Homo sapiens: one gene and its partners. The protein of the gene in region 4 interacts with the protein of the main gene of each other region in a biochemical or structural test. Each region holds a gene or a part of one and is shown on either strand. Other genes may lie near its edges.

Evidence for each region.
Region 1: of the proteins of ACTG1 (region 4) and GZMA, one has a biochemical effect on the other in vitro, tested with the Homo sapiens proteins (one study listed by BioGRID).
Region 2: the proteins of ACTG1 (region 4) and TMSB4X are reported together in a solved structure, tested with the Homo sapiens proteins (2 studies listed by BioGRID, with this or other methods).
Region 3: the proteins of ACTG1 (region 4) and WASL are reported together in a solved structure, tested with the Homo sapiens proteins (one study listed by BioGRID).

What each region holds. Positions count from the first base shown.
Region 1 is NC_000005.10:55,097,772-55,105,646, forward strand, and holds the start of GZMA (granzyme A precursor), read left to right. Parts: upstream 1-4,874; 5' UTR 4,875-4,911; coding exon 4,912-4,981; intron 4,982-7,702; coding exon 7,703-7,847; intron 7,848-7,875. UniProt on the Homo sapiens protein: Abundant protease in the cytosolic granules of cytotoxic T-cells and NK-cells which activates caspase-independent pyroptosis when delivered into the target cell through the immunological synapse. It cleaves after Lys or Arg.
Region 2 is NC_000023.11:12,970,358-12,977,743, forward strand, and holds TMSB4X (thymosin beta-4), read left to right. Parts: upstream 1-4,752; 5' UTR 4,753-4,811; intron 4,812-5,888; 5' UTR 5,889-5,904; coding exon 5,905-6,004; intron 6,005-6,419; coding exon 6,420-6,454; 3' UTR 6,455-6,866; downstream 6,867-7,386.
Region 3 is NC_000007.14:123,682,984-123,690,004, reverse strand, and holds part of WASL (actin nucleation-promoting factor WASL), read left to right. Parts: intron 1-854; coding exon 855-963; intron 964-5,424; coding exon 5,425-5,486; 3' UTR 5,487-7,021. UniProt on the Homo sapiens protein: Regulates actin polymerization by stimulating the actin-nucleating activity of the Arp2/3 complex. Involved in various processes, such as mitosis and cytokinesis, via its role in the regulation of actin polymerization.
Region 4 is NC_000017.11:81,509,785-81,517,431, reverse strand, and holds ACTG1 (actin, cytoplasmic 2), read left to right. Parts: upstream 1-4,632; 5' UTR 4,633-4,698; exon of another isoform or gene 4,699-4,817; intron 4,818-5,071; 5' UTR 5,072-5,077; coding exon 5,078-5,200; intron 5,201-5,289; coding exon 5,290-5,529; intron 5,530-5,805; coding exon 5,806-6,244; intron 6,245-6,323; coding exon 6,324-6,505; intron 6,506-6,598; coding exon 6,599-6,742; 3' UTR 6,743-7,461; downstream 7,462-7,647. UniProt on the Homo sapiens protein: Actins are highly conserved proteins that are involved in various types of cell motility and are ubiquitously expressed in all eukaryotic cells.

The DNA of each region.
Region 1 (7,875 bases), on a different chromosome or scaffold from region 4:
AAAAACCTTGAAAAAAGATTAGACGAATGGCTAACTAGAATAAATAGTGTAGAGAAGATCTTAAATGACCTGAAGGAGCTGAAAACCATACCACGAGAACTTCGTGACACGTGCACAAGCTTCAATAGCCAATTCCATCAAGTGGAAGAAAGGATGTCAGTGATTGAAGATCAAATTAATGAAATCAAGCAAGAAGACAAGATTAGAGAAAAAAGAGTGAAAAGAAATGAATAAAGCCTCCAAGAAATATGGGACTATGTGAAAAGACCATTTTGATTTGTGTTCCTGAAAGTGATGGGGAGAATGGATCCAAGTTAGGAAACCTTCAGGATATTATCCAGGAGAATTTCTCCAACCTAGCAAGGTAGGCCAACATTCAAATTCAGGAAATACAGAAAACACCACAAAGATACTCCTTGAGAAGAGCAAACCCAAGATACATAATTGTCAGATTCACCAAGGTTGAAATGAAGGGAAAAATGTTAAGGGCAGCCAGATAGAAAGGTCAGGTTACCCACAAAGGGAAGCCCATCAGACTAACAGCAGATCTCTCAGCAGAAAGTCTACAAGCCAGAAGAGAGTGGGGGCCAATATTCAACATTCTTAAAGAAAAGAATTTTCAACCCAGAATTTCATATCCAGCCAAACTAAGCTTCACAAGTGAAGGAGAAATAAAATCCTTTACAGAAAAGCAAATACTGAGAAATTTCATCATCACCAGGCCTGTCTTACAAGAGCTCCTGAAGGAAGTACTAAACATGGAAAGGAACAACTGGTACCAGCCACTGCAAAACCATGCCAAATTGTAAAGACCATCAATGCTAGGAAGAAACTGCATCAACTAACGAGCAAAATAACCAGCTAGCATCATAATGACAGGACCAAATTCACACATAACAATATTAATCTTAAGTGTAAATGGGCTAAATGCCCCAATTAAAAGACACAGACTGGCAAATGGGATAAAGAGTCAAGACCAATCAGTGTGCTGTATTCAGGAGACCAATCTCCATGCAAAGACACACATAGGCTCAAAATAAAGGGATGGAGGAAGATCTACCAAGCAAATGGAAAGCAAAAAAAGCAAGGGTTGCAATCCTAGTCTCTGATAAAACAGACTTTAAACCAACAAAGACCAAAAAAGACAAGGCCATTACATAATGGTAAAGGGATCAATGCAACAAGGAGAGCTAACAATCCTAAATATATATGCACACAATTCAGGAGGACCCAGATTCATAAAGCAAGTCCTTGAAGACCTACAAAGAGATTTAGACTCCCACACAATAATAATGGAAGACTTTAACACCCCACTATCAATATTAGACAGATCAACGAGACAGAAGGTTAACAAGGATATCCAGGACTTGAACTCAGTTCTGCACCAAGCAGATCTAATAGACATCTACAAAACTCTCCATCACAAATCAATAGAATATACATTCTTCTCAGCAACACATCGCACTTAATCTAAAATTGACCACATAATTTGAAGTAAAGCACTCCTCAGCAAATATAAAAGAACAGAAATCACAACAAACTGTCTCTCAGACCACAGTGCAACCAAATTAGAACTCAGGATTAAGAAACTCACTGAAAACCACACAACTACATGGAAACTGAACAACCTGCTCCTGAATGACTACTGGGTAAATAACAAAATGAAGTCAGAAATAAAGATGTTCTCTGAAACCAATGAGAACAAAGACACAACATACCAGAATCTCTGGGACACATTTAAAGGAGTGTGTAGAGAGAAATGTATAGCACTAAATGCCCACAAGAGAAAGCAGAAAAGATCTAAAATCAACACCCTAACATCACAATGCTAAAAACTAGAGAAGCAAGAGCAAACAAATTCAAAAGCTAGCAGAAGGCAAGAAATAATTAAGATCAGAGCAGAACTGAAGGAGCTAGAGACACAAAAAACCCTTCAAAACATCAATGAATCCAGGAGGTGGTTTTTTGAAAAGATCAACAAAAATGACAGACTACTAGCAAGACTAATAAAGAAAAAAAGAGAAGAATCAAATAAATGCAATAAAAAATGAAAAAGGGGATATCACCACCGATCCCACAGAAATACAAACTACCATCAGAGAATACTATAAACACCTCTATGCAAATAAACTAGAAAATCTAGAAGAAATGGATAAACTCCTGGACACATCCACCCTCCCAAGACTAAACCAGGAAGAAGTTGAATCTCTGAATAGATCAATAACAGGTTCTGAAATTGAGGTAATAATTAATAGCCTACCGACCAAAAAAAGTCCAGAACCAGATGGATTCACAGCCAAATTCTACCATATGTATAAAGAGGAGCTGGTATCATTCCCTCTGAAACTATTCCAATCACTAGAAAAAGAGGGAATCCTCCCTAGCTCATTTTATGAGGCCAGCATCATCCTGATACCAAAGCCTGGCAGAGACACAACAAAAAAAGAGAATTTTAGACCAATATCCCTGATGAACATCGATGCGAAAATCCTCAATACAATACTGGCAAACCAAATCGAGCAGTACATCAAAAAGCTTATTCGCCATGATCAAGTTGGCTTCATCCCTGGGATGCAAGGCTGGTTCAACATATGCAAATCAATAAACATAATCCATCACATAAACAGAACCAACAACAAAAACCACATGATTATCTCAATACATGCAGAAAGGGCCTTCAACAAAATTCAACAACCTTCATGCCAAAAACTCTCAATAAACTAGGTATTGATGGGACGTATCTCAAAATAATAAGAGCTATTTATGACAAACCCACAGCCAATATCATACTGAATGGACAGAAACTGGAAGCATTCCCTTTGAAAACTGGCACAAGACAAGGATGCCCTCTTTCACCACTCTTATTCAACATAGTGTTGGAAGTTCTGGCTACAGCAATCAGGCAAGAAACAGAAATAAAGTGTATTCAACTAGGAAAACAGGGAGTCAAATTGTCTCTGTTTGCAGATGACATGATTGTATATCTAGAAAACCCCATCATCTCAGCCCAAAATCTCCTTAAGCTGATGAGCAACTTCAGCAAAGTCTCAGGATACAAAATCAATGTGCAAAAATCACAAGCATTCCTATACACCAATAACAGACAAACAGAGAGCCAAATCATGAGTGAACTCCCATTCACAATTGCTTCAAAGAGAATAAAATACCTAGGAATCCAACTTACAAGGGATGTGAAGGACCTCTTCAATGAGAGCTACAAACCACTGCTCAACGAAATAAAAGAAGACACAAACAAATGGAAAAACATTCCATGCTCATGGATAGGAAGAATCAATATCATGACAATGGCCATACTGCCCAAAGTTATTTATGGATTCAATGCCATCCCCATCAAGCTTCCAATGACTTTCTTCACAGAATTGGAAAAAACTACTTTAAAGTTCATATGGAACCAAACAAGAGCCCACATTGCCAAGACAATCCTAAGCCAAAAGAACAAAGCTGGAAGCATCATGCTACCTGACTTCAAACTATACTACAAGGCTACAGTAACCAAAACAGCATGGTACTGGTAATGGCTGCACAACTATGCAAATATACTAAAATCCATTGACTCATACACTCTAAATGGGTGACCTTTATGGTGTGTGAATTATGTCTCATAAAGTTGTTAGAAGTCAACATAAATGGAAGAGCAACCATTCACATAAAAATAAACAAAATTGTCAATGTTTTAAGAATTTTTCAGTAGGTGTAGTTAATTACAATTTGACTTTTTTAAGTCTGCACTAAAATTACTCACCAAAACCAATAGCAGGGTCCTCACTGCTGTTACTGAAAATGATTAACCTTTGATACACTTGTAATATCTGAGAAAAAGAAATGCAGGGGTCTCAGCAGGGCTCCCTTCTAAGGTCACTTGATTTCTAAAGAAGTAACCACTAGGTTTGAAGTCATCAGGATGTTAACTATGGGGATGGTTGGTTCAGTACCCAACATCCTGACAGCACATCTGACCATGTATATTGTATCGGAGACCACATCCTCAGCTCAGAAAAAGAGCTGAACTCATTTCAAATAGAAAGCACACTGCATACTGTTCCTCCAGGGACTGAGGTTGACTCTTCTTAGAGTGAGACATTCCCCAACATTGGAACAAAAATGACTCCCACTTCTTTTCTCACCTAAACCTGTTCAGAAGAAAGTAAGGAAGAAAGGCAGGAAGCAGGGGTCGGGGGGGGGCGGGGAGGGAGGGAAACTCGGAGATACTTTCAGTATCTAAAGTTGTGAAACTAGACAATCAGGAACGCACAATCAGAGGGCTGAAAAGGGCCAAGAGCCCCTACCCTCCTCCAGCCCATGTTCCCACACCTGCCACAGACCAGGCAGGAGCACAATAAACACTCACCACAAAGTGGGGAAGGAAAATCCAGGCAGGAGCCTCTATGTAAATAAATCTCCCTCCTGTCCTCAGCTTGCACTTGGCCTGCTAATTCTTATATAACCCAAGGAGACAGCTAGAAAGAATTTTGATTGGTGACCAATTTTGAGGACTTTTATTAAAATTCTAATTTAAGTCTTCGAGAGTTTCCAGTCATGGATACTACAGATAATATTGCAGATGATGAAAGCGTCTTCAAAATCATAGCTGAGACACTTTACAGTCTTCCCTGGTGTACTCTGATGGCAACAAGGTCCCTTGCCCCTCTCCTACCCTGTAGAATTCCAGCGCCCCCCTCAGCAGTCCTAGCAAAGGAAAGCCTGCCTGCTGGCAGTGAGCCATCATCCACCATTCTCACTTATTTGGATTTGGTTTCCTAATGCTAAACTTTGAAACTTGAAAAAAAAAATGAAAGGAAACCACATCCTTTTTACTCTCAGTATATAGATAGAGGCAGTTAAGAACTGAAAACAGATTTTCAGGTTGATTGATGTGGGACAGCAGCCACAATGAGGAACTCCTATAGATTTCTGGCATCCTCTCTCTCAGTTGTCGTTTCTCTCCTGCTAATTCCTGAAGGTAAGACTGATTCTTCTCATTTCCATTATGACCATGAAGCAAAATGGAGCAGACTTTCAATGAACTTTTGGCAATATTACCTTCCTATACTGAAAGAAGATGTTTTCCCCCAAGCCTTATAATGTTTAGCCAGGCACAATGGCACATGCCTGTAGTCCCAGCTACTAGGAACGCTGAGGTGGAAGGATCACTTGAGCGCAGGAGTTTGAGTCCAGGCTGGGCGACATAGTGAGACCCTGTCTCTATTTTTTTTTTTTAAATAGCATTCTTTCTTGGATTTTAAATATGTCTGTATTTTAGAAAAAAAAATCTTTTCTTCTCATAATTATTTTGCAAAAGATAGCAGAACCACCAATGCTTATTGCTGCCAATTTGTAACTTGAAAATTGCCAAAAAGGACAATGTAAAAATGAGTTAACAAAACTCTCTTGTTCGTAAAACAAATAGTACCTTCCAGGAAAGGAATAGTGGCAACTTAGTCAGCTCAGCCTTTCCTGCTGCAGAAAATGCATAGATAAAGACAATTAAGACAAATCTGACCTAGACACCAAAAGTGAATCAGGAATTATTAGAATTTTTATACTTATTTCTCTGGTCTAGAGACTCTTTGGCAATAAATTAAGGCGTGAGGCCAGTTCCCTCATTAACCCTTTGGGTGTGCTATAGTATTTTTTATTAAGCTAATTTTTTGTCTACCAAATGGTAACCAATATTTCTGCTTTTGTGTGAGTTGAGCATGCATGGGTTAAAATGCTGTATAATTCATGGTATTACCACTGAAAGGGTGACAGCTCTTGGGGAGCTCTAGATTTCCCTTGAAGAACCTGCTAGGAAGTGAGGACTACTCTCAAGCTGTGGCAATATGGAGCCAGCCACGGTTTTTCCCAGGATTCATCAGCTTTTGGAGGCAGGGACTTATGTAATAACCTGCCTTGCCAGGAATTCCCAAAGAACTCTGGTTTATCATATTTAGGTGCATATCTGGTTTATGCACCTAAATATGAGAAGACTTTGGGAGGCTGAGGTGGGTGTTTCACAAGGTCAAGAGATGGAGACCATCTTGGCCAACATGGTGAAACCTTGTCTCCACTAAAAAAACAAAAATTAGCTGGGTATGGTGGCACGTGCCTGTAATCCCAGCTACGCAGGAGGCTGAGGCAGGAGAATCGCTTGAACCAGAGAGTTGGAGGCTGCAGTGAGCTAAGATCGTGCCACTGCACTCCAGCCTGGTGACAGAGCGAGACTCTGTCTCAAAAAAAAAACAAAAAAGAGAGAGAGAGAGAAGAAATATAAAAATAACAAGGCTGCAGGACATTTGGGACAAAGGTTGGCTATGTTATAAGCAGGGCATAGTATGACTATATTCAGGCATGTTAAATCCTCCATAACAGAAAAACACAGGGCAGATAAATCCAGCCATATCTTTTCTTCAAAGGAAAACAACAAAAGCAACCTGCTGTGCTCCTCTTTGTTTCCTGTGTTCAGAGAGGGCAGTGTGGGCCCATATAAGGAACAGACAGCAAAGCAAGGCACAGTTGAAATCTATCTGTACATGAATCACCCTAGGAAAATTGGGATTGGGTGAAGGTCTTTTGTTTCTATAAGCTCTTTACCCTTTTGTTTCTAGAGCCTAGAATTTCTTCCTCCCAGTTTCCTTTTTAAAAGCAGAGACCTCTGCTTTTTCAAATCACACTAGCCACATTTCATGTGGTCACTCTCCTCCTTGCTCTTACCCTCATCAAATCTTACGAAAGGCTTCTATAGCTGTCATTAATACTTGCCTGTGAATTTGGCAATGACTTAGTCCTAATTATGGAACAAGAGGCACTGTGCCCTATTCAAGAAACCATGAGTCTCAGCAAAACTATTTTGGGAGAATCCAAGAACATCTGGTGCAGGAGGTGGAGCACTCGGAGTGTATCACTAAGACATAAGGTTCTCTCTATCTGCATGTATGGTTTGCCTTGTGTTTAGTTCTCACTGTTCCTTAACAATGGGTCTCTACTTCAAGACTATCATCAAGGAAATGTCACTTAGGCAGAATTCTTGGCATATGGTATCTTCTCTCTTCTCTTCCCTATCTCATTGGAAAAGACCTTAGATTAAACCCCATGGTTTGGTCTAGAGATTGAAGGGGAGGTGCAATCGATGTTATTTTCTTAACTTATGAGTGAGAACAGTGCAGTTTAATAACCAAAAGTCTCATAATGACCAAAGGACTGAGGGGTAGGGTCACAGCTAAACGATGCTAATATCGGTTCATAAGCTATATTTTTGCAATGGCTTGGGGTTAAAAGGGAAGTTATGAGGCTTCTAAAAGTCTTATCTATTTCCCCCAAATTAATAGTTAGCCAAAAAGGGTGGGAGCACTTGAGGTTGTCACTACCACTGGCATTTCCTGCAGCAACTGTTGATGGTAAAGACCAAGGCAGAGCTTTCTGCCCTGGGGCCTGAGGTTGCTGGTTTGTGACATCCAGCCTAATGATCCTGGAACAGTCAATGGCCTCGCTTCTGTGGGTGGAAAAACAGGACCCTAGAGTCCAACAGGAATAGGATTTGCATCAGATGTCTGCGGGTCTACATAGAGTAAAAGCAGGGGAAATGCTCTCATCCAGACTTCCTCTCTGAGTGCAAAAAGCATGGCTGGTCTTAGAAACATGACTTTGTGTAGAGCTCTTTGGGGGTGAGCACCAATCTGATTTGTCTTTTTCCATTGAACAGATGTCTGTGAAAAAATTATTGGAGGAAATGAAGTAACTCCTCATTCAAGACCCTACATGGTCCTACTTAGTCTTGACAGAAAAACCATCTGTGCTGGGGCTTTGATTGCAAAAGACTGGGTGTTGACTGCAGCTCACTGTAACTTGTAAGTGCCTGGGTTTTTAAAAAAAAGT
Region 2 (7,386 bases), on a different chromosome or scaffold from region 4:
AGAATATAACTTTACCCTTATCTGGCGTATGGAACAAAGCCTTTAAAAGGCCTTAGGATTCTAGAGAAGAGTAGTGTTTAAATGAGGCGGCTTCTGAGCCAGCCAGTCTGAGTTCAAATCCTGCCTTTGGCTTTCGTTGTGTTTTCTTGGGGAAGTTATTTAATCCCTCTAGAATTCTCTCATCTGCAAAATGAGGAGAATAATGGTGCCACTGTCATAGGATTGTGTGAGGATTCGGGAAATACTACATGGAAAGCTTCCCAGTATATGGAAAGCACTCAGAAAGCACTTGCTGTTATTACTGCTATGGGTACAGCCATGATTGTTACTATCATTATTCTACAACCTGGCCCCTGCCTGGTTCCCAGCGTTATTTCCTGTCACTTTCTCTCATTTTACGCAAGTGCCTGCCAAGCTAAGCTACTCATTGCCCCCTGCGTTAACTCGAAGATTCTCTGCTTCCGTATTGTTCCCTGGCTGTGTGGAGGCTGAGTAACCACTTGGAGGGGATGTTGTAGAGGAAAATTCAAGCCACAGAAGGGAAACTGGGTTGAATGAGATCCCCTTTTACATTTCTTTTGGCTCTAAAGTTTCCATCGGATCAATAAAGCAAACAGGACAATTAGCAGCACGGCACTCAGCACTGAGCACAGGCGAGGGTGTTCTTTCACTCCTCTTTGCTTTCCTGCCACCCCCTGCTCGCCTTCCTCTTTGCACCATGTGGGTCCGCTCTGGGTGGGAGTCCTGGAGAAAGATACTTCAACTAAAGATAAGGCAGAGATAGGCCTCGGTGGAAAGACTTGGTAGACAGACCTGGGCATTTGATTAAGAGCAAATTGCTTAAATTCTCGGAGCCTCAATTTCTTTAGTAGTAAAATGGGGATATTAGTACTCACTCCATAGGGTAAGAATGGAATCAGATATTGTTTAAAAGGGCTTATAGCTGAGGTTACAAGATATAGCTAGTCTACTAAATATCCTTTCTCTTTTCATTTTCCTGTTATTCACAGGGGGGACTTAGGCTGTGTCTTTAAGGGGTTTTAGATTCCAATCAGTGGAAGGAGGGCTCTGCTGTGAGGGAGACCAGATGGAGACTGCAGGGGCCACAGGGGAACGTGGGGTGCAGGCAGGTGGGGCAGATGGTAGGAGGCCCTGAAACTCAGACAAAGGGATCTGGGCTTGAGAAAGCAAGAGCTGGGAGCTCAGCTTTGTTCCTGTTCTTCCGTTCCTCCCTCCTCTTCCTTCTTCTCTTCTTCTGGTAAGTTTTTGGCACAAAATTAAATAGGTTCAAACTAATAGAACTCATTTTCATGAATTCAGACTTCTAGCCAACTTCTCCATGGTTAGAAATAGCCACGACTCTATCCCAGGCCCGCCCTGGAAAGCAAAATAAAACTGCGTCCCCTGCCACCTTTTCCGGGTTCCACCAGACACAGGGTTGGAGGGGAACCGCCCTTCAACGCAGGCAATGTTGGCACATTTTTCATTGGGCGCTGTGGCCCGTGAGATGAGGAAGGCAGGACAGGCGCAAAGTGGACTCTACTTATCTTTCACCAGAGAGCCCCAAGGCCAGAGTGCACCATACAACCCGGAGTCACCCAAGGCCTTTTTTTTTGGGGGGGGGTCTCACTGGGAACAATGTCTGCACCCATTGTAAGCAGTTCCTTTGCCCCTGTGTGCCTCTGTCTTTTTAATTGGGATCGAAAACTGCTACCTCAATGGTAGTTGTGCCCGGCACATACTAACAGACTTATAAATGTAGCTGCCTGGGGCAGGGATGATCCTGGAACATTCTGACATCTAGAACATTAAGACTAAATGGATTTAATTATCTGGGGAGAAGAAAGCAAGACAATTAGAGTCACAGGTTCAACACCTGAGTTCAAGTACCTCCCTCATTTAAGAAAATCAATTCATGGAAGGCTGAGGCAGAGAATGGCTTGAATCCGGGAGGTGGAGGTTGCAGTGAGCCGAGATCACATCACTGCACTCCAGCCTGGGTGACAGAGCGAGACTGTCTCAAAAAAAGAAAAGAAAAGAAAATCAATTCAATGCAGTGGGAGAACTGTTATTGAGCAATTACTATCCACCAGACGCTGTGGAAAGCACAACTGCCTAGCTCCTCACACTCTTCCTGGTGATTCTCGGGTACAGACTAAGAGGATGTGGGGAGGACTTTTACATGCTCTTGGCATATATAACAGAGTGGCTACCAGCTGAGGTAACCCAATGATGGCTCTCTAAGCCTCAGTTTCCCCATCTGGAAATTTCTTATGGAAAGGCGGTGGGAAAGAAAGGAAAAAACAAATGTAAAACTTACGTTACAATGCCTGACTCTTAGAAAATATCAACCGACAGGAGTTGTCATGTTTTATTTGCTGTAAAACTACCAAAAGATCTTCTATCAACATTTTGTAAGTGAAAATAATAATATATATTCATATGTATTAATTATATAGAAATAATATATAATAATATATAAATGTCTCTATAGGAGAAATAATATCAAGACACCTAAAATTTTTAATTAATTCTAAACACTAAGACAATTATTTTATTATTTTTCCTCAACCTTCCATCCTAAATCATACGAATAATAACAATAGAAAGAGCTTACTAATTGTCATGCACTGTCCGAAGCATTTACTCCTCCCAACAACCCTGTGAGGTCGGTGTTGCAATGAACCCATTTTACAGATGAGAAAACTCCAGCACAGAAAGATTCATTCACATGGCCAGAGTCATGCAACTTTTAAGAATATTCCTTTGGTTTGCATTTCCTTGTATCTGCACCACCCTTCCCTTTCCTGTCTCTCTAGGTCTCCTGACCGGTTGGCAGGTCAGTCCCAATCATGGGAACTCTTTTCCTTTAAGCAGTCGTCTCTCTTTCTCTTCCTCTCTGTTTCCACCTGCCCTCCATCAGTGTCTCAGCACAGTGGAAGGCTGCTTGCTACCGCACTGGAAAACTTCTCCAGACATTTCCAAGTTTGCATTCGTCCATCTCCTTTGGAGAATTGCTTCAGTGAGGCCTAACCCTTTCTGAGGAAAGGCCCTTGGGAGAAGAAGCCAGGAGAAGGTAGTGGCACTCCTTTGTCATCAGGAGACATTGGGAGGAAAGAAATGATTTTCGACAGCAGCTGGGTGAGGGGAAACAGAATCACAGAACCTGCGGAAACGGTGTCGGTACAACGGCAGCTGCCAGCTAAACGGGCGAAAAGGCACCCTGCAAGATCTTTTCTGTGTTTCAACGATGAAGTAGACTCCCAACATGGAACAGGGGCGGGGGGGCTGTTACCAGACAGGTGACATTTGGTGCATGCACGAACAGGTCCAGTGCCCCATTCGGAGGCCAGGAAGGCAGCCACCCAGCAGAGCATTAACTAGGGGACCAGACGGTCACCTGCCCCTGCTCACCCCCACCTCCTTCCTCCCCAGGAAAAAGGAAGTCAAGTAGATGGAGAAACGGGGAAGTCCAAGCTGCTGGCAGTGGCATTCAAGGGTCTATATATAAGGTTGACTCTAATCCCCAGCGAGACAAAAGCCTGTGCCATAAAAATGATTAGCAAGGGGTTTCTAAAAACATTTCCCCAGGCCACGGAAAAGGAGAAGGAATATTTTGCACACTGCCTTGTCTCTTAGAAATAATCACAGCTAGGCCTCTTTATAACCGGCGAGTCTTTTTCCTTTCACACGCCATTTGCAGGCGCGTGGCATGGTATTTGTAACTAATTTTCAGTAGCAAGTGGGTCACTGGTATTCACAGAGTCAGGTGCCATTTTGAAAACTGCTTCCCTCTACCCGAATCTCTTATATTTCCAGATGCAGATGCACTTCAGCGATGTCCTAGTGCTGGAAACGCTCCCTTGAAAATATAATTTGATTTTTGAATTTCATCTTAAGACATTAGAGATAATGTAACTGTAGTCTTTGGAATTCAACGCTGGCCTCCTTAGCCATCACTTTTAAAATTTATGAAAATAAGGAAGAGGAAGGTAAAGAACTTCCTCATTGTCCGGCAGTAAAGTCAATGGCAGAGCTTGAGCTTGACTTATTTTGCTAAGAGGGAGGTGTTTTACCCTATAAACTCCAAATTACCTTACACCCAGCAAATACTACTGTTGAGTGCTCACAAAAATTATGCTGATGAAACAATATGGATGTTTCAGTGATGAAACTTTCTCTTTTAAAATCACTTAAGGGTGCTTTACGTCCCACCCAAGGCAAGAGGAACGCCAGCGAGGAAGACAAAGAGGCCCGGGGTGGGGCGCATGCCCGCCACTGGACTGAAAGCTGAGTCACAGGAATCGTACCCCTGCAGCGGGCCAGGCCCTCCAGGGAGGGACACCGCGCCCTTGTGTGGAGATGTCCACAGTAGACAAAGGCAGTTTCGAAATAAAAGAATGCCTGTCACCCCAGGTGCCACCCCGACCCTTAGTTATTATGCACTGGTCCCCAAGAGCAATTTCTGCGCTGCTGTTGCAAAAATTCATCGTAATGAAATAAACGTAAAAGGGGAAAATGTGTTATGAAGTGTTGGAGGGTGCTTTGCTCATTTTTTTCGCCATCGTTGTGGTTAGGGTGCATGCACTAGTGGACCCCGGGTGGGGGTGGGGCTCCCCTCCCCAAAAGCCCGGCAGGCCTCCGGATGCCGTTCCGAGACGCGGCGCGAAGGAGTTAAGCGGGCCGGCGGGTGACATCACCTCATTTACATAGGAGCGCCCATAAAGCTGCGCCCGCCGCACCCCGCCCGACAACTCGGTGGTGGCCACTGCGCAGACCAGACTTCGCTCGTACTCGTGCGCCTCGCTTCGGTGAGCCCCAGGGCCCCTGCCTCCTTCCTCCTGCCGTCCTGCCTCCGTCCCCGCCCTTTCATCATCCGCGTCCCTGTGAAGGCATTCCCTAAATCCGAGCCCGAGTGGTTCTCCCCGGGAAGGCTACTTTGGGGAGCTGGGGGGATGCGAAACACCCTAGATACTGGATAATGGGGTGGGGAAATCGATGATTTAAGAACAAAACCGAAAAACTGGCGTTTTGCCGTGCCGCTCGGAGGGGACATTAAAAAATTTCTTAGTGTTTGCCCGCAAAGGTATTGTGCGTTGCCTTGGAGGCTGAGATATGGGGGAATAGACAAGTCCTTTGTTCTGAGGTTCATCTTCCGAGCCCCGAGCCTCCTCCCAGCCTCGGACGGCTGCGCGGGCTGCATCTGTGCAGCCTGGCGGCGGCGGGGCTGTGCTATGACATCTTTACAGTCCTTCTTGCAGAGACATGTGTGCCAGGGATGCCGAATTGCCGGGAGAGCAGGCAAGACCGGCTTCGGGGCGCGCGGCGGCCGCTTTGTGTGCGGGGCTGCATTGTGACGCGGGCGATGAAGCCGGTAGGGCGGTGGTCGGAAGCTCCAGCCGCGGCCGCCGCCTTTGTGAGAGGACTAGAAAGCCGGATCCGGCCCGCATCCTTGCGGAGAGGCCGCGGCTAGGAAATGGAAACGCTTTTCCTACCTGGGCTCCATTTTAGGAATTCTTGCCGATTTTTCCCACTTGAATTTGGAAGTGGCTTTCCTCTTCTTTCCTTGTCCTAGCCAGCCTTTAATTTTAAACGCTGTAATTAACAATTCGCAGTGGTCAATTTCCTTTATTCTGCAAGATTCGGCTTTGAGAGGCATCCGCCCTCTTTGGTCCACAGCGTTTTGAAATATGGGGAGGAGGGGCGCGGGGGGTGTCGCCTCTTTTTCTGTAGAAAGAGGAAGCTCGTGAGCGCGGAACGGCAGCAGTAGGAGAGCGAGAAGGGTTTTTTTCAGGCTGCGGGTCGGAGGGCAGAAGTGCAGTTCCCAGCCCAGAGACAGCGGGGCGGGTGGCTCTTCCTCACGCTCGCTCTTGGCTTGCTCCCTGCAGCTTTTCCTCCGCAACCATGTCTGACAAACCCGATATGGCTGAGATCGAGAAATTCGATAAGTCGAAACTGAAGAAGACAGAGACGCAAGAGAAAAATCCACTGCCTTCCAAAGAAAGTGAGCTCCGACCCACCCCCATCTTTAGAAAGGCTGGGTGGGAGCGGCCGGTGGGAGGGCGGGAGGCTGGGAGCGGCCGCGGGAAGAATTCGGGAGGGGGGAGTGCGGGGGAAGAGCCGACAGTTGATGAATGTGGCTTGCAAAGGTTAATTAAAAATGGTTTTGCAGCCAACAAACACGGGGCTTTAGTAATTTAGTAATGGAATATTTAATATGCCATATTAATATACAAACATTTATCCATTAAAATGTATTTCTATTTAGTATATTCAATATACATATTTTATTCCATTGTGGAATACCGTGTAGAATGTTTATGATTTGAAAAGATGCTTTAAATGAAAGCCCTTTAGTCTGTACTGAATCCTTTAATCATCTCCCTCCATCTTTTTTTTTTTTTTTTTTCTGGTCACAGCGATTGAACAGGAGAAGCAAGCAGGCGAATCGTAATGAGGCGTGCGCCGCCAATATGCACTGTACATTCCACAAGCATTGCCTTCTTATTTTACTTCTTTTAGCTGTTTAACTTTGTAAGATGCAAAGAGGTTGGATCAAGTTTAAATGACTGTGCTGCCCCTTTCACATCAAAGAACTACTGACAACGAAGGCCGCGCCTGCCTTTCCCATCTGTCTATCTATCTGGCTGGCAGGGAAGGAAAGAACTTGCATGTTGGTGAAGGAAGAAGTGGGGTGGAAGAAGTGGGGTGGGACGACAGTGAAATCTAGAGTAAAACCAAGCTGGCCCAAGGTGTCCTGCAGGCTGTAATGCAGTTTAATCAGAGTGCCATTTTTTTTTTTGTTCAAATGATTTTAATTATTGGAATGCACAATTTTTTTAATATGCAAATAAAAAGTTTAAAAACTTAGCTGGTGTGTCTGTTTGGTTTCTGGAAGGATCGCGGATGAAACCTTTGCAAAGAGGCCTACCTCTTGGTCCATTGGGGAGGGACAAGCATCTGGTGACTGGATAAATTCCCTTATGGCATAGAAATGGGTTTCACCCAGGTATGCAAAATACCTTGTCTATACTAGGAGATCATTTTCTCAGGCTGATTGAATTCCTAGTATGAATTGTGTGAGAGCTTTAATAAAAATATCTTTGCAGTTCTTACGGGTTTTGATAAGCTGACATTGCACGTGCTCAAGAAAATGAAGGTGATAATTTACAGCACAGTATCTTATTTCAGGGTATCAAATTGAACTTGGTTATTTAACCAAGTGCTAGCATTAACATAGATGAGTAAAAATTACATTTTTAGCAGCTGCGTTAAGAAGGAATTTAGGACTTGAGCTTACTCATTTTCTAATGGCCGGTTTCTAATCAGAGTTCAATATTTACAATTGCTTTAATGAATACAGTTAAGATTAGTGAACATGATTTT
Region 3 (7,021 bases), on a different chromosome or scaffold from region 4:
AACCACTTTGAATTTTTTTAAAAAAGGTGTTTACTCCAGAAAGAACAAGGAGTATTAGAGGAAGAATTGTACAGATCAAAATGGAAAGTTTGTCTAAATAAAATTGTCTTTGGGAAATGATTAAGAATTTCAAAAATATATATTATATATGTATGTATTAAAACATAGGTAATTATTTAATACAGCTATGCTGTTTCATCTTTAATTATAATTTTTTTTTTCATGAATGCACTTTGGCACAGCTGGAAGTACTTCAGTTAGGGATTGTTACTTGCCTAGTGAGGCAGGTACATTTTGAAAGTTGATCAACTCATCTCCTTAAAAAGAAATTATATACTATGAGAAAAGAGGTTCATTTTGAAGGTATAAATGTAACATAAAGGTGTAAAGCTGAATTTTTGTAGGCAAATATAAGTTTCTACAGTTGTTTTTCAATATCTTCAGTGTGCGTCCCACGTAACAACTCTGGAGTCTAAGTATTAACCTCTGTTTATAACATGAAATCCCTTGATAAAAGCTTTAAAGTTGATCATCTAAGTCTGTGTGTGCTGGAATAAACAGAAGTAACCCAGCAAGTATTATTCAGGAGAGGGTTTGTTATCTGAATGTAAACATAGATTTGGAAATGTATTTTTGGCTTATACATTAAGATGGAAAGGAAATATTTTTGAATAATATCTTTAAGGCAGCAGTTTATTTCTTGTTAATTTGATTAATCTTGTCCTGCGCTTGCCAGTTTGATATCTTTTTTGTCTTTTACAATAAGAAGTGATTCTAAGAAAGTAGGACTTTCTGGAGACAAAGATTCTTGGCTAAAGATTTATTACTGAGTTTTGCTAACTTTCTTTTCCAAGGTGGCTGATGGCCAAGAGTCTACACCACCAACACCTGCACCCACTTCAGGAATTGTGGGTGCATTAATGGAAGTGATGCAGAAAAGGAGCAAAGCCATTCATTCTTCAGGTAGAGAGAGAGAGAGAGAGAGAGAGAGAGAGAGACAGAGAGAGTGTGCGTGTGTGTTTAATAAATTTGAATGTTTGACGTTCTGTTATTTTTATGACTGTCTTTGCTAGCTTTCTCTCTGCTAATTGAGTAACTACTGATGTGGGCTCTAGGATGTATTTTAAAAAGTTGTTGCCTGTGTGACTAGTCTCTCTGAGACTTAACAAATGCAACACCACCACAGCCATAGCCATAAATTGAAAGAACAGCTTTGGGAATATTGACAGTTTTGTTTCCTATATCAGGAAATGCTAATAGACTTCCTAGCAAACAACCTCTAAACAAAGCTTGAGATTTTTAGATCTCATTCCTGTGACATTACTGTGACATGAAAAATTCAGGGCTGGGTGCGGTGACTCACACCTGTAATCCCAGCACTTTGGGAGGCCGAGGCGGGTGGATCACCTGAGGTCGGGAGTTCGAGACCAGCCTGGCCTACATGGAGAAACTCCATCTCTACTAAAAATACAAAAAAGTTAGCCGGCGTGGTGGCGCATGCCTGTAATTCCAGCTACTCGGGAGGCTGAGGCAGGAGAATTGCTTGAACCCAGGAGGCAGAGGTTGTGGTGAGCCAAGATCGCACCATTGCACTCCGACATGGGCAACAAGAGCAAAACTTCGTCTCAAAAATAAAATGAATAAATAATAATAATAATAAATCGGGCCATTTACCTCATCTGTAAGGATTAGGGATAAGAATTTCAGTAATTTTTACTGTTTCTAGAGTTTGCTAAAGAATACTAACTTTTTTTAAACCTTTCTTTTTCATTTTCTAAAAGGTTGATTTGAAGAAACCAGTACCTATTCTGAGGTTATTATTAAACATATACATACCACCATATAAATATTCCTTTAAAGAAAGAACAAGAATATGAGTTTTGCTGATTGGAGTAGTTGAGGTTTGCTAAATAGCTTCTCCAACATGATGTGCTAGAATCAGATCTTTCTTCTTAGATTTATTTAATCTCTGTGAGCCTCAGTTTCTTGTTTGTTACATTCAGAGAACTCACAAAACATATAGATGTGAGAATTAAATAGTATGTCACTAACCTGCAGATTGCCTAGCACATAGTAGGTGCTTAATAAATGTTACCTTCCTTTTGTTTCTCTGTAAGGATGTCCATGTCTTAAGATCCTTGAGCAATGTTTGTTTTCCTTAAATAGGCATATTTGTACCTACCCTCCATTACAGAGATAGAGATAAATATTTATTGTGGAATAATAATAAAATTTTAACAAAAAAAAAGTCCCTGCCTTCATCGACATGCATTAGGTCTAATGAGAGAGAGAGACAAGCAATAAACAAAGAAAACTAGAAAAACATACAGTATGTTAAATGGTGACATGAAGTAAGGACAAAAGTCTAACAGAAAAGGGAAATAGGGGGCAGACTGTTGAGAGAGAGGTTCATTTTGAAATGATAAAGGATGATAAGGGACAATAAAGCCTAACTGAGGTGACATTTGAGAAAAGACCAGCAGTTCAGGAAGTGAACCATGTAGAAAACTAGGGAAAGTGTATCCGATGGAAAGAACAGAAAATATAAAGTCTGTGAGGTTGAGAAACAATGAGGAGATCACGGAGCTTGCAAGGGAGGGAGGGAAAGAATAGTAAGGAATGAAATACAAGAAGTAGTAGGAGGCCAGTGGTAAGGCTTTGGAGACCCCTGAAAGTGCACTAGCTTTTATTCTGCATATGATGGGAAGCCATTGGAGGGTTTTTAGCAGAGGTGTAGTAATGATCCAAGCAAGAGGTGATGGAGGCTTGAACCAGGTTTATAGCACCAATGAGAAGTGGTTAAATATTAATTATATTTTGAATGTGGAGATCACTGGTTTTGATGATGGTTTGAAAGTGAAGGTTGAAGAAAAAGAAGAGTGCAAAATGACTCCAAGGTTTTTGACTTGAACAACTGGAAAGGGGAAAGACTTACGAAGAAAAAGTTTGAGAGGGAAGATTAGGAGTTTGATTTTACATATTAAATTTGAGATACCTATTAATTCAACTATAGATGTGGAGTAGGCATTTCGTTATGAGTCTGGAAGTCACAGGAGAGGTCTGAATTGTTAAATTGCATGTCAGTAGGATATACATAGACACCTGGTATTTAAAGTTATGGTTATGTTTATGGTATAGTCTTCTTTAGCATAAAAACAGTGAAAATTACCTAAATTCTTAGCCCTAATCCTCACAGATGAGGTAAACTGCCTGAATTTTTTATGTCATAGTAATGTCATAGGAATGAGATCTAAAAATCTCAAGCTTTGTTTAGAGGTTGTTTGCTAGGAAGAGATAAAGAAAGGTCTTCATTCATTCATAAAGAAATGTAAGGCTTCTGTGAACTACATGATTCTGAAAAAGCATTTATTCTATGCTGGTATCTGTGAGTTCTGCTAAATATTTCCCTACAATAAGTTTTTTTTTAATAGTATGTAATAGTCACGCTAATATAATGAAAATATAGGATGGTTTTTACTTATTTTCAGACCCATTTATTTTAACTGTTAGTATTTCTGTGGTAGTACCTGATGATGAAATTATTAGCTACTTCTTCCTCTTCACCATAGATACTGATAAGTTTCTGTCTTTTGTCAGTCTGTAATGCCAGCATAGTCAGGTGTCTTTGATGCTTTTCATCCAGGTAAATTTTGTGAAGCATGTCTAGCAAAATCTGGTAGCAAATTATTTCCCTTGCTAGAAGAGTAAACAGAAATTAACATGACTCAATTGAACTCCTTTCCAAATAAATTCTGTAACAATTTAGAGCTGACCATGAGACTTAAATAAATAAATAAATAAATAATAAATAATTATCGTTTTAAAAGTAACAACTTAGTTTAGGGCTAAGAGAAGATAATGTTGCTTCTCTTGGGCTTCTGTTAATTTTCAAGTTCTAATACTAGAGCTCCAGTACTTCTTCAAATACTACCTTCACACAATCAATTTTACATGAGAAAAATAGAAGAAAAAGATTGTTCTGTGTTCTGTACATGTAACCCACACGTATGTCACCTAGTCTTACTGGCTTTTTATCATTATCAAGTACAATTACTCAGCCACTGTCCCACTTTATATACTTGGCCTTCATGGGTCCTATATATATATTTATATACATATTTATATATATTTATATATTTATATATAGGTATATGTATTTATATATTTATAGGTGTATATATTTATACATATTTTATATATAGATATATGAAGAGGTTAAATATGGAAAGTCAGTATAATATAGAAGTATGCTTATAAAATCTGATAACTAAATATTCCTTCAACAAATATTTATTGAATGGCTGGTGTGTAGTGCTGTTTTGGTGTTGAGGATACAGTGAGAAATAAGATAGGCAAGGTCCGTGCTGTCATGGAGCTTAATAGATAAAGTACAATAATTTTAGATATTAGCAAGTGATATGAGGAAAGTAAAATGGGATAGGCCGTTACTGATTATGGGGAAGAGCTATACTTTACATATGATGGTCAGGAAAGGCCTCTCTGAGGAAGTAGTTTATGAATGGTTTCTAAATGATGAAAAGATTCAGTTTAACGAAGAAATAGCTACTGCAGAAGTTCTAAAGCCAGAATAAGATTGGTGAGTTTAAGGGACAGAAAGGAGACCATCTTACTAGAGAGAGTGACTTGAAGGGAGAGTACATATGAGAGAAGTTTGGGGAGAGAGAGAGACAATAACTGGACAAATCATGTAGGGTCTTATGGAGGGAGGTAGCATCAGATTTCATTCAAATAGCAGTGGTAGCCACAGGAGGACTTTAAGAAGGGTAGCAACATATTTTTTAAACTTGAAATTTAAATAATATCACTCCATTTGCTCTGAGTCAAATAGACTCTAGAGTTGCAATAATCCAAGCAGGATGTGATGGTGGTGTGGAGAGTAGCAGTGAAAGAGGTGAAAAAGAGCAGGCTTGATAATTGGATCGTGAAAAAGGAGGAAGTAATAATAATTTCTAGGTTTTTGGCCTGATTATGTGACAGGATGGTGATGCCATTTATTGAGATGGAGCAGCAGACCAGGATGGAGCAGGAAAAGAAGATTGGGGAAGGAAATAAAAGTTAGAAGTTTTGAGTTTGAGAATCCATATGAAGAGTACAAGAAGGTAGTTGGATTTGTGACAGAAAGGTCAACCCAGATGATTTTATACATTAACAGGTTGAAATTTGTCACATAGATATTAAGGAACTAGAACCATTGTCTTCTAAGCCCTGTTTTAATCTTTAGTTTACTATCATACTCTATAGATATATTTCTTTAGATTCACTTTAAACTGTTTTAGTAACTAGATTCTTCTGGGAGTCACATTATCTGTGTTTCAGGAGTTAAATAATTGGAGAAACCACCCAAGAATTATGTAATGTCATTTTATTTATGCATATGTTTTAATTGTCTTGATTTTCTTGTAGATGAAGATGAAGATGAAGATGATGAAGAAGATTTTGAGGATGATGATGAGTGGGAAGACTGATCTATATATTATATATATATATATATTTTTAAGGTGAAATACTAAACACTACTTTCTGTCTGTGGATTCTGTAAAATTATCATGTAAATGTTCTACCAATTTGCTGTATATTTTTGTTGCCTTTTTTGCTTTTTTTTAATCTGTGCAATACCTCATTTAATCTGTAAAGGTTTGTCGTAATCCTCTACAAAGCTACTCCCTGTTATTGTGTGCAAGTTTACACCAGGATGCTCACTTGATTTGTGAATATTTTTCATTCCATCAACAAGGGAGTTTAAATACTATATGTGAGACTGACAAAAACCTTAATGTAATTTACTTATAATGCCAGAAGGAAAACACTATTTTCATACCCTACTTTTTCTGTACCTAAATTTTCTTAAAAAAAAATCTAGTATAGCACTACATTCTTTTTTAAGTGATGCAGACCTTAGTTTCTTTAGCCCCTTTATTTTGAATACAATGCTACATATGAATGTTGAAGCTGATACATTGCACAGTTCTGTAGACATCACTACACCGATGTAGTTTCTCAAATTTTAGCAATATGCTCTACATAAAATCACTACAGAGATACTAGTGGGGAAGACGATTAACACACCTCTTACAGTAATACTGCCTGTTATTGGTATAGCAGTGGTATTTGCAGACTGGGATCATAAGGAGCCCTTAAATACTTGTTATTGACTGGGGTTATTTTTATGCTGTAGCAAATGTGACAGGCTCTTTTTAGCAAAATTTTTGAAAATTTTTTTGGTATTACTCTGAAACAAAATTTAAGTTGGAGTTTCAGGGATTTAGGGAGTAGTTTTCATTCTACATGAACTGAGGTAATATTATGGTAACTCCAATATTTGGTTAAAAAAACTATACAAATCAGAATAGTACTAAAATACTGTAGAATTTTAGCATTTTTATTTTGCACTTTGTGTGGATTGAGGTGTTCAGAAATACCAACCATAAAAATGTAATCTAGTTGGCAAAGGTGTGCGCTAAAACACGGAACCGAACATGCATTGATTTGGATAACTTTTGAGGGTTTTTGTCAAATAGCATGTGAAGAGTTACATTTTTCTTAAAAGATTGGTGGTCCCAATGTCAGAGTTCTTGGAACAGATAACTGAATGATAGATTTTTTTTTTTTAAAGATAAAACTTTACAACCTGCACATTTGTTATGCATACTAAATGGTGTGTTAAAATTAGGGTTTCTTTGCCTCTCTACACTACACTAATCTGCCTAAAGGTGGTTGTTTCATATTTATAATGCTAATTATCATACCTACCTACTTTAAATTTTAGGTAGAAAATTATCTGATTTAAATACAAACATATTTTTCTCACATTGAGTAATATGCATAATGTAGTTCCAAATGTATTTCATTACTATAGTCACAATATCCAACTAAAAATTACGCTATCTAGAATTGTACCAACCAAAATCTCGTATTGGCAGATCTTGACAGGCTGGACCTGCAAGATGTGGCTTGAATTTTAACCATTTATTACATAATCTCTAGTGATCATGCATCTAGT
Region 4 (7,647 bases):
CACACGGGAGGGCAAGCAGCCTCAGAGCCCCTGATGGGCCACACATCTCACATCGCAGAGCCCTCTCCTCTTTTTTGACAGGAACTGGGGTACAGAGAGGTCACGTGGCAGGCACAGGGCTGAGCCGGGCCCAGAACCCAGGTGTCCGACTCCCAGCTCAGGGCTCTTCCAGGGGCCTCCTTGGTTCCTGCTCACAGCGGGGATGGGGAGCCTCAGGTAAACTGCAACAGGGATCCTGTCTCCAGAAGGCCTGGAGCAGCGGGGGTGGGGCGGGGCAGGGGAGTGGGGTTGAGGGACTCTCGGCCTGAGTGTCTGTGTGCATTCAAGCCCCTAACCCTCGTGTAGAGTGCCCACACCGCCCTCCAGAACCTTCTGACCTCCCAGAATGTGACCTTGTTTCTGGCTAATTACCCTGACCCAGGAGACTGCCTCAGTTTCCCTCCCTGTGAAAACTCCACAGTCTGGGACTCTCCTCCAGTGGTGAGAATTGGACAAAACATGCAGAGACCTGGTCTGGGGACCAGGTGAGAATTGGACAAAACATGCAGAGACCTGGTCTGGGGACCAGGTGAGAATTGGACAACACATGCAGAGACCTGGTCCTGGGACCAAACAAGCAGCACCTGGCCACTCACAGCCAGCTGCCCAGTGACTCCGCAGGGGTGGGGTGGGGGGCAGCCAGCTGAGCCTTCTGAGCTTCAGTCTGCGCAGTGGGGCAGGAGAACCAAGCCCCAAGCTGGGCACCAGCCAGGAGACAGAAGTGTGGGACCCTGGCCTTGTCCCTTGAGCCAAAACTCAGAGGCAGCCAGGCCGAGTTGCAGGAAACCAGCCTTGCCCACCGGGACCAGCCTTGGGACCACTGTTCCTGAAGAGGCAGAGCCCACTCCAGACCTGCCCAAGGGAGCCAGCCAGGCCCTGGAAAGAGCTTCAGGAAACAGGGCCATCACCTTGCATTTCATCTGTCCAAAAGGGTGTGGGAGAAGAGGGAGGTGGGCTGAGAGTAGGGAAGCTTTGCTTGCCTTGGATTCAAGTTAGCTTTTTATTATGGGAGAACTTTAAACTTACAGAAAAGTTGCAAAGACAGTGGGAAGGTTTCCCAATGCTCTATTCCCAGTGTCCCCTAACCTGGCATCTTACACGGTCATGGGACAACTGCCATAACTGAGAGATTAACCTTGATACTTACGGCCAAACTCAAGGCTGTGGGCTTTGCTAGTTCTTCCACCACTGTTCCTTTTTCTGTTCAGGGTCCATCGTTTCATTTAGTGGTGGAAGATGAGACACTCCAGGCTGGGTGAGGTGGCTCACGCCTGTAATCCCAGCACTTTGGAAGGCCTAGGCGAGTGGATCACTTAAGGTCAGGAGTTCAGGCCAGCCTGGCCAACATGGTGAAACCCTGTCTCCACCAAAAATGCAAAAATTAGCCAGGCATGGTGGTGCACGCCTGTAGTCTCAGCTACTCGGGAGGCTAAGGCCCGAGAATCGCTTGAACCCCGGAGACAGAGGTTGCAGCGAGCCAAGATCGCGCCACTGCGCTCCAGCCTGGGCGACAATGAGACTGTCTCAAAAATACAATAAAATAAAATATAAAGAAAAAGTAGACATTCCAGGCAGGTAGAGTGACAGAGGCAAAGGCTAGGGGTGGGGACCCATGCCCACGCCCCCATGTCTGTCTGACAAGTAGCCGGCCAGGTGGTTGGCGGTGGGGACTGGGGGGCCCTGTCAACTGGTGTGGAGGTGACCCAGAGTCCGGGGGCTGATCCGGTGCAGAGGGAGGAACAGGGCAAGGAGCTGGAGGTGGGGCAGTGCAGGCCGTGGAGGGCGCAGGCCCTGGGTTAAGCCTCAGCTCTGCCATACCTCCCTGGGCCACTGTTGTCGTATCCACTAAATGGGCCGAAACTAAAATAAGACATAACAAGGTCATGATAAAAAGCCATCAAAACCAGCACTGAACTAGAAAAGAAAAATCACATCGCTTCTCCAGGCCCCAAGTCTCCCTTCCTGAAATGTGAAGGACACACCCACCTCTGGCGGAAGTGCAGCTGCCGACTCTCCCGGCTCCGGAGGCCGCCCAGCTACCCCCAGCTCCATCCATGCGGTCCCCTCCCCAGGCCCAGCTGCCCGGCCCTCTCCGGCACTGGTTCCAGAAGGGTGGCGGCTGCCCTGCGCCACTGGCTTCCCAGAGCATATCCAGGACAGGCCCCGCGCGACCTTGGGCGAGGCCCCGCTGCTAAACAGAAAAATCACAGCGCGCGGTCCAGCCCCCTGCGCCCCGCGGGCTCCAGGCCTCGCCCTGCCCGCCCGCCCGCATCCCAGGGACAGGCAGACCCGCATCCCCGCCGCCGTCGGTCCCGGGACTCCCCAGGCTCCGAGGCCCCCCACGCCCGGCTCCCGCCCCGACCCCTCGGAGGCGCCGGGCCACTCCTACGCCCCGAGGCTGCCCGGCCGCCGCCCCTCTGTCCCGCGCGCCAATCGGCGGCCTCCTTGACTAAATAAGGCCAGGAGCGCCGGGCGGGCGCCCCCCGTCCGTTACTTCCGCCCCCCGCCCGCCGTGACTCAGGCCCGGCGGCGGGCGGGGATGGCGCTGCCCCGGGCCGGGCTTCCCGGCGGAGGCGGGCGGGGCTCCGGCGGCGCCGAAGTCGCCAAATATGGCCGCGCCACCGCCCCCCGCCGCGTACCTGGGCCACACCTTGACCCCTGCCGCGTGACGCGGCCGCGGAGGAGGAAGTCGCTCTCCACCCCCGGCCCGCGGCGGCGTCCCCTCCCCGCCCCTCCCCGCGGCTCAGGCCCTGCGGGTGGCGGGGAACCCGGGGGTCTCGAGGCGCCAGCCTCGCCCCCGCCCCCACGACCCTGGCGGCCTCGGGTCCGCAACGTGGGGAAGAAAGGTGGGGGACGGGGACGCGCGCCCGGGGCCGGCACCTCCCCGCACTTCCTAGACAAAGAAGCTTCGGAGGAGACCAGAGACCCGGAGGGGCAGGGTCCCCGGCCGGCCCGGAGCAGAACGTAGTGTGGGGTGAACGCAGGATGGAGGGGCTTGTGGCTATTCCCCACCCGCCTCGTGTCCCTCGGTGTGTGACGTCGCATCTTGGGACCCCCCAAGTGGAAGTCCTCACCCGGGGGTCGAGCAGGCTGTGTGGTTCTGCCCAGGGACGCGAGTCCGGGTGGGTCTGTTGGAGGCCCAGCCCCGGCTTCGCCACGGGAGGGAACATACCTGACAGCCTTGCCCGGGCCCCCGGAGATTCTGGGCCTGGGGGCGCTCAGCACCCCTGGGAGGCCTGGGGCACGGGGGCCTTAGGCACGGGTCTCGGCGTCCGGGCTGACTGCAGCCCGCAGGTGAGCTGGGCCGGCCGCCTTGCCCTGACTCGCTGTTGTCACTCCCAAACACGGGGTCGCGAGCTAACGTTGCAGGGCCCCGGACTCCGCGTGGGGACCCCGGCCCCGCCCCCCAGCCTGTCGAGTCAATCTGAACGCTCTGCGACCTCGGGCGAGTCCGTCCCCTCACTGCGCGGCCTCACTGCCACCCCTACGCGGCCGGCGCTCCAACCCTGAAAATTCCAGCAGCGCACAAGGAAACCGTAGTGCCGGGCGCCTCTCGGGGTGTAACCAAAGCACCGGCGCCGCTCCTGGCGAGGAGTGAGCGCCCTGGACAAGCCTGTGGCTAAACCCACGCCAGCCCTGATCGCTGCTCTTAACTAGCATCGTAAACAGAAGAGGGTATCCCCCCGACCGCCCGAAGCTGGGGAGCCGACCTTCAAAAAAGTCAGGGCTCCCATTGTCTACCTCAGTTTCCCTATAATGTCTACAGGTGACCAGAATGAAACAAAGGCCTCACTCCACACCACCTTCTCAGCACATAAGGGGGCGGGGTAGCCCCAACCCGGAGCGCGCGCCTGGGGACAATCAGGCCTGTGATTTGAGGGGCAGGGATGTGTCGGGTCGGGTAGAAAGGGGCCTCGGTCTTCAAACGAACGGAGATCCGGGGCAGGGCGCCCCGTGGAGGGACCTGCATGGTGGTGGCTGCGCTTGGGGACGGGCGGGCTGTTTCCTATGGTGACCGGGGCGAGGTGAGGGCTCCTGAGAGCTCCCCCGCGCCCAGGGACGCAGAGCGTCGCGGACCCCCGCCGCGCCCCTTCCTCAGCCCGGCACTGGCGCCCGAGATCCTCGTGGAGCCCGAGGGGAAAGATTGCAAGGGACGTCCCAGGGAGCAAAGCCCCGCAGCGTGGCCGGGGACTCGGGGACCCACCCCAGCTCCGGCGCGGCCCCGCCCCGGGTCAGGCAGTTTCGGGGCGCAGCAGGGCCCTCCCCACGGCGCGGCAGTCCCGGGGAGGGGCCAGGCCCGTCAGCCCTTCGGCCCTCCCGGCGACCCTCGGAGGGCGCCCCAACTCAGACCCGCCCGCCGGCCCGCGCAGGGTCGCGAGCGCGCGGGGGTGGCGCGGGCGGGGCCGTTGGGAGGCGGTGCGGGCTGGGGGCGGGGCGGGCCGGGGCCCCACGTGTCCCTGCCCGGCGGGCCAATGGGTGCCCGGCTTTCGGAAAGATCGCCATATATGGACATGTTCTGGGGCCGCGCGCGCCGCCGGGCCGCGCGGGCGCGCCGCTTCCGCTTAAATAACGGCGGGGGAGGCCGCGGTCGGTCTCAGTCGCCGCTGCCAGCTCTCGCACTCTGTTCTTCCGCCGCTCCGCCGTCGCGTTTCTCTGCCGGTGAGCGCCCCGCCCCGGGGCCTGAGCTGGACGTCGCAGGCCTGCGCCCCCCGACCCCGGCTGGCCCCGCTTCCAGCTGCCGAGGCCTCGTCGCGCCTTCCCCGGGAACAAAAGGCGGGGTGGGCCGGGTCAGGCGGACGGGGCTGGGGGGGCGCCGGGGGTCCAGGGCGGGGCCCGGCCGCAGTGCAGACTTCCGAGCCGTGGACGTTACGTAAAAGGCCCGGCCTTCGGTTCCAGGCGGTTGCGATCTTGGAGGCCACGGCCGCTGGGGTTGGGGCAGGGCCGAGGCTTCCCCGCGGGAGGGCATTAGGTGGCTGTGGGGAGGGGACCGTGTTACAGACGCGCCCGCCTGAGTCCATCCTTTTCCGGGCAGGTCGCAATGGAAGAAGAGATCGCCGCGCTGGTCATTGACAATGGCTCCGGCATGTGCAAAGCTGGTTTTGCTGGGGACGACGCTCCCCGAGCCGTGTTTCCTTCCATCGTCGGGCGCCCCAGACACCAGGTGAGTGGATGGCGCCGCGGGGCTCCTGGGTTCTGCGTTGCGGGGTGGGTTCGGTGTCGCCGGCGAGGCTGACGGGTCGTCCCCTGCAGGGCGTCATGGTGGGCATGGGCCAGAAGGACTCCTACGTGGGCGACGAGGCCCAGAGCAAGCGTGGCATCCTGACCCTGAAGTACCCCATTGAGCATGGCATCGTCACCAACTGGGACGACATGGAGAAGATCTGGCACCACACCTTCTACAACGAGCTGCGCGTGGCCCCGGAGGAGCACCCAGTGCTGCTGACCGAGGCCCCCCTGAACCCCAAGGCCAACAGAGAGAAGATGACTCAGGTGAGGCTCGGCCGACGCCCGTGCTCCTCCCGTCCTTTCCCCAGTCATTTTCTGCCCGGCTTGATTTCTGACATTTAAGTGTTTCTTTCGCTGTTCCAGGCTCTGTTCCTCTCCCGGCATTTCCTCCCTGAAGCCTCCAGGTTTCTCATTTGGTTTCTGCCTGCGTTCTTTTCTTTTCTCCACACATCACACTGGCATGCAGCATGTTGTGGCGTGTGAGCATGGGGTGGCCGTGGGTCTCTGTCCCTGACTAAGCCGCCCCTTGTCCCTTCTCAGATTATGTTTGAGACCTTCAACACCCCGGCCATGTACGTGGCCATCCAGGCCGTGCTGTCCCTCTACGCCTCTGGGCGCACCACTGGCATTGTCATGGACTCTGGAGACGGGGTCACCCACACGGTGCCCATCTACGAGGGCTACGCCCTCCCCCACGCCATCCTGCGTCTGGACCTGGCTGGCCGGGACCTGACCGACTACCTCATGAAGATCCTCACTGAGCGAGGCTACAGCTTCACCACCACGGCCGAGCGGGAAATCGTGCGCGACATCAAGGAGAAGCTGTGCTACGTCGCCCTGGACTTCGAGCAGGAGATGGCCACCGCCGCATCCTCCTCTTCTCTGGAGAAGAGCTACGAGCTGCCCGATGGCCAGGTCATCACCATTGGCAATGAGCGGTTCCGGTGTCCGGAGGCGCTGTTCCAGCCTTCCTTCCTGGGTAGGTGTTGTGAGCTAAAGGTTTCTACTCTTACATCCTCGGTGACACAGCATCACTAAGGGAGGGCTCTGTCCCCTAGGTATGGAATCTTGCGGCATCCACGAGACCACCTTCAACTCCATCATGAAGTGTGACGTGGACATCCGCAAAGACCTGTACGCCAACACGGTGCTGTCGGGCGGCACCACCATGTACCCGGGCATTGCCGACAGGATGCAGAAGGAGATCACCGCCCTGGCGCCCAGCACCATGAAGATCAAGGTGAGTCGAGGGGTTGGTGGCCCTCTGCCTGGCTCGGGAGAGCTGACTGGGGGGCGCTCTGTGAGCTGAAGCCGTGCCTGGCTGTCTTTGCAGATCATCGCACCCCCAGAGCGCAAGTACTCGGTGTGGATCGGTGGCTCCATCCTGGCCTCACTGTCCACCTTCCAGCAGATGTGGATTAGCAAGCAGGAGTACGACGAGTCGGGCCCCTCCATCGTCCACCGCAAATGCTTCTAAACGGACTCAGCAGATGCGTAGCATTTGCTGCATGGGTTAATTGAGAATAGAAATTTGCCCCTGGCAAATGCACACACCTCATGCTAGCCTCACGAAACTGGAATAAGCCTTCGAAAAGAAATTGTCCTTGAAGCTTGTATCTGATATCAGCACTGGATTGTAGAACTTGTTGCTGATTTTGACCTTGTATTGAAGTTAACTGTTCCCCTTGGTATTTGTTTAATACCCTGTACATATCTTTGAGTTCAACCTTTAGTACGTGTGGCTTGGTCACTTCGTGGCTAAGGTAAGAACGTGCTTGTGGAAGACAAGTCTGTGGCTTGGTGAGTCTGTGTGGCCAGCAGCCTCTGATCTGTGCAGGGTATTAACGTGTCAGGGCTGAGTGTTCTGGGATTTCTCTAGAGGCTGGCAAGAACCAGTTGTTTTGTCTTGCGGGTCTGTCAGGGTTGGAAAGTCCAAGCCGTAGGACCCAGTTTCCTTTCTTAGCTGATGTCTTTGGCCAGAACACCGTGGGCTGTTACTTGCTTTGAGTTGGAAGCGGTTTGCATTTACGCCTGTAAATGTATTCATTCTTAATTTATGTAAGGTTTTTTTTGTACGCAATTCTCGATTCTTTGAAGAGATGACAACAAATTTTGGTTTTCTACTGTTATGTGAGAACATTAGGCCCCAGCAACACGTCATTGTGTAAGGAAAAATAAAAGTGCTGCCGTAACCAATGAATGGCTCCTGTTTGGGGAAGTAGCAAGTGGGCTGGGAAAGACAGACCAACCTGGAAGTATTGGGTAGTCTTGGGGGTGGGGGCGGTGGGTGCTGCTCAGCTTGGCTTCGTGGGCTGGTGAGAAAACGGCTTAACAATAAACTGAGCAGTTCGATTTCTTCCAAATCGAAAGTGCAAGAACAAG